2 separate regions of the Homo sapiens genome follow, and region 2 is linked to region 1. The links come from fine-mapping of genetic effects on gene expression. A gene starts in region 1. The other region holds a variant in brackets. All regions are shown on one strand. Distances are between the middles of the regions. Region 1 holds the start of XRCC3 (X-ray repair cross complementing 3). Region 2 holds the start of KLC1 (kinesin light chain 1).

What was found.
Region 2: its variant is fine-mapped to the expression of XRCC3 in whole blood (TOPMed, PIP above 0.99).

The regions. Positions count from the first base shown.
Region 1 is chr14:103,713,644-103,718,017 of GRCh38, forward strand. XRCC3 (X-ray repair cross complementing 3) reads right to left here and starts at 1,808. Exons shown (of 10, transcript NM_005432.4): 1 at 1,781-1,808. ZFYVE21 (zinc finger FYVE-type containing 21) reads left to right here and starts at 2,167. Exons shown (of 7, transcript NM_024071.4): 1 at 2,167-2,336. The coding sequence starts at 2,199. RefSeq lists an enhancer at 609-1,294 and silencers at 1,491-1,750, 1,831-2,400, 2,591-2,670, 2,771-2,840, 2,901-2,980.
Region 2 is chr14:103,625,885-103,630,258 of GRCh38, forward strand. KLC1 (kinesin light chain 1) reads left to right here and starts at 3,327. Exons shown (of 17, transcript NM_001394837.1): 1 at 3,327-3,610. It overlaps LOC105370688 (a long non-coding RNA gene), which reads right to left and starts at 3,259. Exons shown (of 3, transcript XR_944248.2): 1 at 3,148-3,259; 2 at 1,855-2,041; 3 at 1,618-1,656. RefSeq lists silencers at 282-331, 2,895-3,094, 3,185-3,544, 3,595-3,714, 3,805-3,854 and 1 more and an enhancer at 2,365-2,454. The variant T/C (reference allele first, on the strand shown) is at 1,864.

The DNA.
Region 1 (4,374 bases):
GAGCCTTCCGAGGTGGACTCACTCCTCTGCCTTGGGCCCTGGGACCTGCTGTGTAGCTTTGAAGTGATTCACAGCACTTACATAGTCTGATGTTTTGGGGTGACCTGACCCCCCTGCAAGAGTGTGATGTCTTATCAGACCACATATGTGAGGACTTGAGTGAACTCCGCAACCTTGGGAATGCCACTTAAACCTTGTCAGACACTCCCTTATGTGAGTTACTGACCCTGACTGCTGGACTGCAAAAACAGACATCAGCTTGAAGGTTGTGCAGATGCTTTGAGGCAAGCTATACGCTGCTGGCCTGGGAGCTGGACCTCGGTCCCAGCTTCTCAGAGAGCTCCCGCTCTCACGCTCTCCACTGCTACCAAGGCAAACCTCGAACTCTCACCAGATCTCACTCTCCAGGGGCCCGCTCCATCCCAGCAGAGCAACCGGACCCTGGCCGTTCTGCCACTCACCTCCCTGCCGTGAATGCACCCCATCCATGGAGGCCCTGCTTCCCTGCCAGGTGTCTTCACCTCCTCCCCTCTCCTCCCCTCTGAGCACTGTGAACCCGAGAACAAATCTTCTTTGACAATAAACCGTGTGATTCGTGGAATCATACTTTGATCATCTCCTTATTTCCTCCACACACAAGGACCCCTGCACTGCCAATGGCCCCAGGAGAGGGCAGAGTCAGCCACAGGGACCCCACCTCACAGGCTTCAACACTGCTGATGCCTGTCATCCCAGCACCGTGGGAGGCCAAGGCGGCCAAGGTCGCCTGAGCCCAGGAGTTCAAGACCAGCCTGGGCAACACAGCAAGACCTACTCTCTACCGAAAAAAAAAAAAAAAAAGAAAAATAGCTGGCCAGTGTAGTGGCGCTTGCGGTCCCAGCTACTTGAGAGCCTGGGAGGTCGAGGTTGTGCCTAGCTGTGAAGACGCCACTGCACTCCACCCCGGATGACAGAGCCAGACTGTCTCAAAAAAAACAATAAAAATTCACGCCTTGTAATAAGGAATTAAAGGCAGGATGAACAAACATTTTCTTCTTTTTTTTGTGTGCTTTCTGAGATGGAGTCTTTTTCTGTAGCCCAGGCTGGAGTGCAGTAATGTGATCTCGGCTCACTGCAACCTCCGCCTCCCGGGTCCTGGTTCAAACAATTCTCCTGCCTCAGCCTCCCAAGCAGCTGGGATTACAGGCACGTGCCACCACACCCAGCTAATTTTTGTATTTTTAGTAGAGACGGGGTTTCACCATGTTGGCCAGGCTGGTCTTGAACTCCTGACCTCGTGATCCGCCCGCCTCGGCCTCCCAAAGTGCTCGGATTACAGGCGTGAGCCACCGCGCCCGGCCTAAAGGATTTTCTTTCCAAATCAAAGTATTAAAATAACTGTTCAGACCTCTCCCACTTCGATGCGAAGCCAGCGCGGTCCCAGGCGGACGAGCGAAGGCATCGAAGGCCGGGGGCGCAGCCGCGGGCCCACCTCGGCCTCCCCTGAGCGGACGCCTCCCCGCGCGCACCGGGGGCCCCGGAGACCGCCTTCCCCGCTCCGAACGCACGCGGCCCGGCCCCGGCGAGGTGCCTGAACGCTACCCGAGCTGCGGCGGGGCTCCCGGGGTGAGTGCTGCAGCCCCAGGCCCGCCTGCTCCCACAGGCTCGGGCAATGGAGACCCGCGGCCGCCCCCGCCCCTTGACCCTGCCTCACCCCTCACGCCCGCTGCCGCCCACGACCTCCGACCCCGCTGCCGCCCGGCTCGCAGCCCGGCTCGCAGCCCGGCTCGGCGGGCCTCACCTCCCGCGGGTTCCGCACTCCTCTTCCCGCCGTCCTGCTCCTCTCGGCCTTCTCCTCCAATAGGCGCCTAGCACCCTGAGTGGGCTACACCAATCAGAGACGAAGCGGCGCTAACGTGACTGACTAACTAACCAATCCAAAGTCTCAATCTCCCTGAGAGGGGCGGAGCGTACCCGGGCCAGCCCTCGCCGCCGATTGGTGATCGACCTCAGGGTTGCAGGGGCGGTGCCCTTACACGGATTGGAGAGGGCAGCGATGGGGCGGAGTTCAAGCTCCGATTAGTCCGCGCTCCGTGGCGGGCTTGGCGATTGGACGCCGGCGCTGTCAGCCGCGCGCGGACCGGGGCGGGGCGGGCGGTGCCCCGGGCTGGGCGAGGGGCCGGGTGCGGGGCCGCTGGCCGAGAGGCTGAGGCGGCGTCATGTCCTCCGAGGTGTCCGCGCGCCGCGACGCCAAGAAGCTGGTGCGCTCCCCGAGCGGCCTGCGCATGGTGCCCGAACACCGCGCCTTCGGAAGCCCGTTCGGCCTGGAGGAGCCGCAGTGGGTCCCGGACAAGGAGGTGGGTGGCCGTCGCCCCGGCCAGCGCCTCCGACCCGCCCCGCCGCCCCGGCCCGGCCCCGCGGGCTTCCAGGCTCCCGCGACGACCCCTCCGCCTCCGGGCGGCCCCTTCCCCAGCCGGCCCCCGCCCCCGCTCTCTCCCAGGTTGGCCGCGTCCCCGGGCCGCCGCCTCAGGCTCCTACGCCCGCGGGGAGGGCGGGAGGCGCGCGGTGTCCCGGTGCGGGGGTCCCGGGAGGGCAGGAGGCACCTGTCCAGGGCGGGCGCCGGGAGGCGGGGTGCGGGGCGCGGGCTGGTCCCGGGGGTGGGTGCGGCCCTGCCCGAGGCCGGTTCGTGCTGGGCTAGCGCGTGTGGACTGCGTCCCGAGAGCTGGGGCTCGCTCCCGAGAAAGTGGAAGGCGGAGCGCCTTCCTCGCAGGCTCGGTGGGGAGGGCGCGTGCTGTCCGCGGAAGCGCTGGAGCTGGCGGCCCCGCAGGGGTCCCTCCCGGGAACCGGGGGAGGCGTCGGTGCCGCGGGCGGGTGGCCGGTTCCGAAGCCACCTCCTGCTCGGAAGGAGGGCCAGGACCCAGTCTGCGGGCCAGGCTGCCCCCCGTTTCCCTTCGTCTATACCACCCTCCACCTCGGAAGCGAGGTCGCAGTCGCCCACTGGACAGTTTGAAGGAGACCGCAGATTTGCACCCGTTTCCCATGGGCCCAGACACGGCAGGAGTTGCCCAGGCCACTCCTGCAGACATTGGGGCGTGGGCGTGGGGTCCCTGAGCCAGGCCATCCGCTGGGCCTCCCGTGGGGTTCCCTGTGACCTGATCGGAGGTGCCTTTGCCTCACACCAGCCCCTTGGCCAACTGGGAAGGCCCCGAGTGCATTTAATCCCACTGGCTGTGCGCTAACAGGTGTGTCCAGTTTCTGTTCTGTGGATTTTACCACGATAAAAAAAAAATTGGGGGAGAAAAAGAATTTTTGTAATATGACTTTCATACTTAACACGTGTTACAGATTCGTTTAATTCCCTCAGTGATAGAACTAAGCAGACGTTGGAACTAGGTTCAAGAAGTCAAAGTAGCACTAATTGACTGGGTTCATTGAAGCTTGGTTGGAGGCCTGGTGGGGGGTGAGCGGCCACAGAGCCTCGGGGACAGGACGGAATTCGAGTGACTCTGGGGAAGTGTCTCTGGCATCTACAGTGTACGGAGCCATCACCGGTCACTGAGCGTGTCCTGGAGAGTTGAGACCAGTGCTGCCCACCTCTCCCCAGTATCGCCACCATGAGGAGTCTTTTTAGACACTTTCCGCCAATCATCCTCCTTCATCTTTTTTAAAATTTACTTTTAAGTTGACACGTGAAAATTGTATTTATGGTGTAACGAACTCTTAATAGCACAGAAATACTCTACGTCTGTATGAACCGTAAGGAGCACGTGAGAAAGTGTGGCCAAGATGAGGCAGAGGTTTCCACCAAAGCACAATTTCTTTCTCCCTGCTGTACACATGCACTGATCTTACGGTTCTGTTTTATAGTGAACCACTGTGTTCCCCTCCTTCATTCTCTCTTCCAGAGCCCTTCTGGTATCAGCTGAATTGTTTAGCATTTTTCCCTGCCTTTCTTTGTGGCCTCTGCTGAGGCACTGTGTGGCAGTCCCGCGGTGACTTCCGACTGAGTGGAGTTGAAACACTTGAGTCAAGGTGGCACCCCTCGTGGAAGAGAAGATTCATTCCCACGCTGGCGTGGTGGCAGGATACCCCTCCAGAGCCCCCCACCATGTTTGGATGATTAACTGGGATCTGAGCAGCTGAGGGAGGTCCTAGCATTGGGTGGGCTTGGGGGACAGAGAAACCATTCTAATAAGATGGACTTTGTCTCTGAGTTTTGCGTTGTGAATTGTATTGGAGCATGGTCTTACAGGCCAGAAACGACCAAAGACAGTGTTCTGGAGGAACTTAGAACGGGGCAGTAAGGGCTGGAAGATTTGGAATAAAGTCCAGCTTTAGGTGCAATAGCTCGAGGGGACATGTACGGTAACAGTCGCCTGGCATGTGGTGATGCTG
Region 2 (4,374 bases), 88 kb before region 1:
CAGCCTTGACCTCCTGGGCTCAAGTGATCCTTCCACCTCAGTTCAGCCTTCTGAGTAGCTGAGACTATAAGGGTGCATCACCATGCCTGGATAATTAAAAAAAATTTTTTTTGTAGAGTCAGGGTCTTACTATGTTGCCCAGGTTGTCCATGCCTTTTAACCCCAGGCAGTACCTTAGGAGCCCAACCTAGGAGCTGCTAACGGCTCCAAGGACTGCAGGATCTCCTGAGGATCATGGCAGAAGTCAGGGACTTAAGGGACCCGAAGAGTCTGCTCCCCTTGAAAAGGGAGCAAGAGCAGCATCTCTGTGCAAAGGAAGCCTGGAGAAGCAGCAGCCCAGCCCTCCTCTCATGCTTGCTTGAGGGTTGCCCTTGCAGCTGCGTCAGGTGCTGAGCAGGCTGTGGGGAAGAGGACACCAGCCCCTCCTGTTCTCTGCTTACAGGCTGAGGAGAAGGCAGCTGTGTAAGCTGACCACATACTACACATTGGGGAAGGGACAGGTGGGTGGTCAGAGGAGGCCTTGACCCAGGCAGGTGCTGTCAGAAGCGGCTTCCCCCAGGAAGTGACGATCATTTGAATCCTGGAGCACTGGGGGGAATGGGGGAGGGAGAACATTCTAGGCACAGTGAATACTATGTACAGGGGCATGGCTATGTGAGAGACCAGGGTGAACTCAGGAACAGATAAGGGTGTTCAGAGCACAGGAGACCAGGAGGTTGGCAGCACCAGGCCCTGGGGGCCTTGTTGACCAACCCAAGGAATTTGAAGTTGCTGCAGACAGTGATGCGTGGCAGCACTGGTGGATGAATTGGCCTTTTCTCCTTTCCCCCAACACTCCAGGGTCATTCCTGCCTGAGGACTCCTGCCCTCAGAGCTCTCCTGGGGCTTTTATTTATTTTGTTTTGAGACAGAATGTGGCTCTGTTGCCCAGGCTTGAGTGCAGTGGTGTGATCTTGGCTCACTGCAACCTCTGCCTCCCAGGTTCAAGCGATTCTCCTGCCTCAGCCTCCCGAGTAGCTGGGACTACAGACGTGCGCCACCACGCCTGGCTAATTTGTTGTATTTTAGCAGAGATGTGGTTTCACTGTGTTGCCCAGGTTGGTCTTGAACTCCTGAAGGCAATCCACCTGCCTCGGCCTCCTGAAGTGTTGGGATTACAGGCGTGAGCCACCTCGCCGGCCTCTCCTGGGGCTTTGAACGCCTGCCTCCCTCCTCTCATTTGGGTCTCAGGTCACCCGCCTGCCTCTGAGTTCACCCCTGACCACCTAGACTCTGCCTGTTCCATCATCTTTGTTCCATCTCTGCCTGTTCCATCATCTCGGCAAGATCCGGTATTTCCTTATGTGTTTATGGCCTACTTCTCCTCACTGGAATGTAAACTCTTAGAAAGCAGAGATCTTATCTATCTTGTTCACCTATGCATCCTTGGCTGTTATGAGGATCATGGGAGAGCAACAAATATTTATTGAGGAAATAAAAGAACAAGGTAATAAAGCCAGAACAAAGTGGTGGCAGTGGAGATGGATTCAAGAAATACTGAGAGGCCGGGCATGGTGGCTCACACCTGTAATCTCAGCACTTTGGGAGGCCAGCTGGGAGGATCACTTGTGGCCAGGAGTTCGAGATCAGTCTGGGCAACATAGCAAGATCTCCTCTCTGCAAAAAATTTAAAAAACATTAGCTGGGAGTGGTGGTGCACACCTGTAGTCCCTAGCTACTTGGGAGGCTGAGGCAAGAGGATCTCTTGAGCCCAGGAGTTCGAGGTTACGGTGAGCTGATTGCCACTGCCCTCCAGTCAGGGTGACAAAGATACCCTAACTCAAAGAAATATTGAGGAAGTAGAATCTTTTCCACCTGTTGTAG[T/C]AGGGCGTAAGGGAGCGGTGCAGGCATCCCAGGTTTCTGGCTAGGGTTGTGGGTGAGCAGAGGGGACAGTTACTGGGCGCAGCGGCACAGAAAGAATGAGCAGTCGATGCTTGGCGGTGCCCAGCCCAGTGGCTGAACTTAGTGACATCCAAGCTGCAGTCTGGCTGAAATCACTAACCTGAAAGTGGTATGGAGAAAGTTTGTTTGACCCTGACTCAGTGCCTCTCCCCGGGCCAACCCTACCGTGTTACCTAGGAGCTCCCCCTTTGTCTTTATAAATGAGATAAAAGTAACCAGACCTCCCTGGAAAAACCGAGGAGCACTTGCTTCTCTGGTGACTGCGGGGCCTAACTGCAGGGTTCACAAAGGGCTGCTGGTGCTGGGTGATAACATCGGAAAGGAACAGCAGTTCACAAGATGGGGCTGGGGGACTGGCCCAGGAACCCCTCCAGGTTAAATGATGCCTCCGGGCCCCGCACTTGGGACGTCTGCAGGCACTGGGAGGGTTTTTCCCAAGCCGCTGGCAGCAGCGAGCGGAGCCTCGCCCATTGAATCAGCATGCCCTCCCGGCTGGCTGCTGAGTCAGGCCTGCGGAGCCGGCGAAGCCGCAGGACTTGACCCAGGCGCGCTCCGCTGCCCTTCAGGCCGGGCTGGAGGTCGAGGCCCTGCAGCCAGGGAGATGCGCCGGTGGCTGCGTGGGGACAGAGGGGGGTTGTCTCCCACCCTCACAGTCTACACCCCGGCCCTTCCCCTTTGCCCGTCTGAGGCGCAGTTTGTGTCGAGGGGGAGCGCCTGGAAAGTTTCCTCGTACAGATACGAGGGTCCAAAAGCCCCGAGGAGAGGGAATAATGAGAAGGGGAGGGCGCAGGGTTAGAGGTCAGGGTCTCGACCAAAGGCTGTCGGTTTTCCTGGAGGAGGGAGAAAGGCCTGGCCGGGATCATCTGATTCCGGGGCCTCCCGAAGGCCTCCTAGCTGGGTTTTGGGGGGACCGAAACGAGCGCATGAAGCTCGCGGGCCTGGGAGTGGGGTGGGGCGGGAGCCCAGTGGTGGCGGCTGCGGCCGGGCCTGCACCGTCCCCGGCCGCATTCTGGTAGGGCCCACAGTCCGGCTGGAAGGGAAGCTGCCGAAGCGCTCGGTCATCGCGGCTGCGGAGTCGGAGAGGCCAGGGCCTGGCCGCCCACCCCGCGAGCCGCGCCCTGCCCCGAGCGCCCCACCCCCGTCCGCGTTACAACCGGGAGGCCCGCTGGGTCCTGCACCGTCACCCTCCTCCCTGTGACCGCCCACCTGATACCCAAACAACTTTCTCGCCCCTCCAGTCCCCAGCTCGCCGAGCGCTTGCGGGGAGCCACCCAGCCTCAGTTTCCCCAGCCCCGGGCGGGGCGAGGGGCGATGACGTCATGCCGGCGCGCGGCATTGTGGGGCGGGGCGAGGCGGGGCGCCGGGGGGAGCAACACTGAGACGCCATTTTCGGCGGCGGGAGCGGCGCAGGCGGCCGAGCGGGACTGGCTGGGTCGGCTGGGCTGCTGGTGCGAGGAGCCGCGGGGCTGTGCTCGGCGGCCAAGGGGACAGCGCGTGGGTGGCCGAGGATGCTGCGGGGCGGTAGCTCCGGCGCCCCTAGCTGGTGACTGCTGCGCCGTGCCTCACACAGCCGAGGCGGGCTCGGCGCACAGTCGCTGCTCCGCGCGCGCGCCCGGCGGCGCTCCAGGTGCTGACAGCGCGAGAGAGCGCGGCCCTCAGGAGCAAGGCGGTGAGTCCCCGGCGTGCGCCCCGGACCGCGGCCCCCTCCTCATCCTCCGCCCCGTCCCTGTCCCGCTCCTCTTCGGACCCGCCCCGGCCGTAACTCTGTCCCCATCCAGGCCTCCTTCCCGGTTTGGGTCCCGGCCCCTCTCCGTTCCCACCCCGGTACCCGCCCCAGTTCACCGCCCCGGCCGGTCCGCGACCCCTTCCAGGTTCAGGTCGGGTTCTTGTCCCCGGCCCTTTTGCCAGCCCCGGCTCCCGGCGCCGCGCGTCCTCCCCATCCGCGTCCCACTGCAGGTTCCGGTCCCCGGCCCTGCCCAGGGCCCCGCCCTGGCCCCGCATCCCCGGCTTGGCCCTGCTGCGGGCGGCGGCGGCCGTTCCCGGGGACAGCTGTGGACCCCGGGAACCCGCGACAGGGGAGGTGGCTGACCCCGGGATCGCGGCGGGCGGGGAGGCCGGAGGCCCGGCGGGGCTGGCTTTGTCCGATTCCTCCTCTTCCTTCCACCCCCGCCTCTCCCGGCACCGCCCTGAGCGGACGCGCCTGTCATTCTCGCGGGCGGCGGGGGGCCGGGTCCCTCCCGAGAGCTGGCTCCGCTTTGCCTCCTTGGCGACCCCTTATTTTCAGTAACCAGATGCGAAACGTTTCAGGCGACCCTGTTCACCTAGGCTGGCGTTGCTCCAACTAAACTTGAAGCAGCCTCCGTCCTGGAATGCTTTTTCCATGTAAAATTGGGTGTACCCTTTTCCTTAAGAAAATTAAAATAAAGCGTAAAA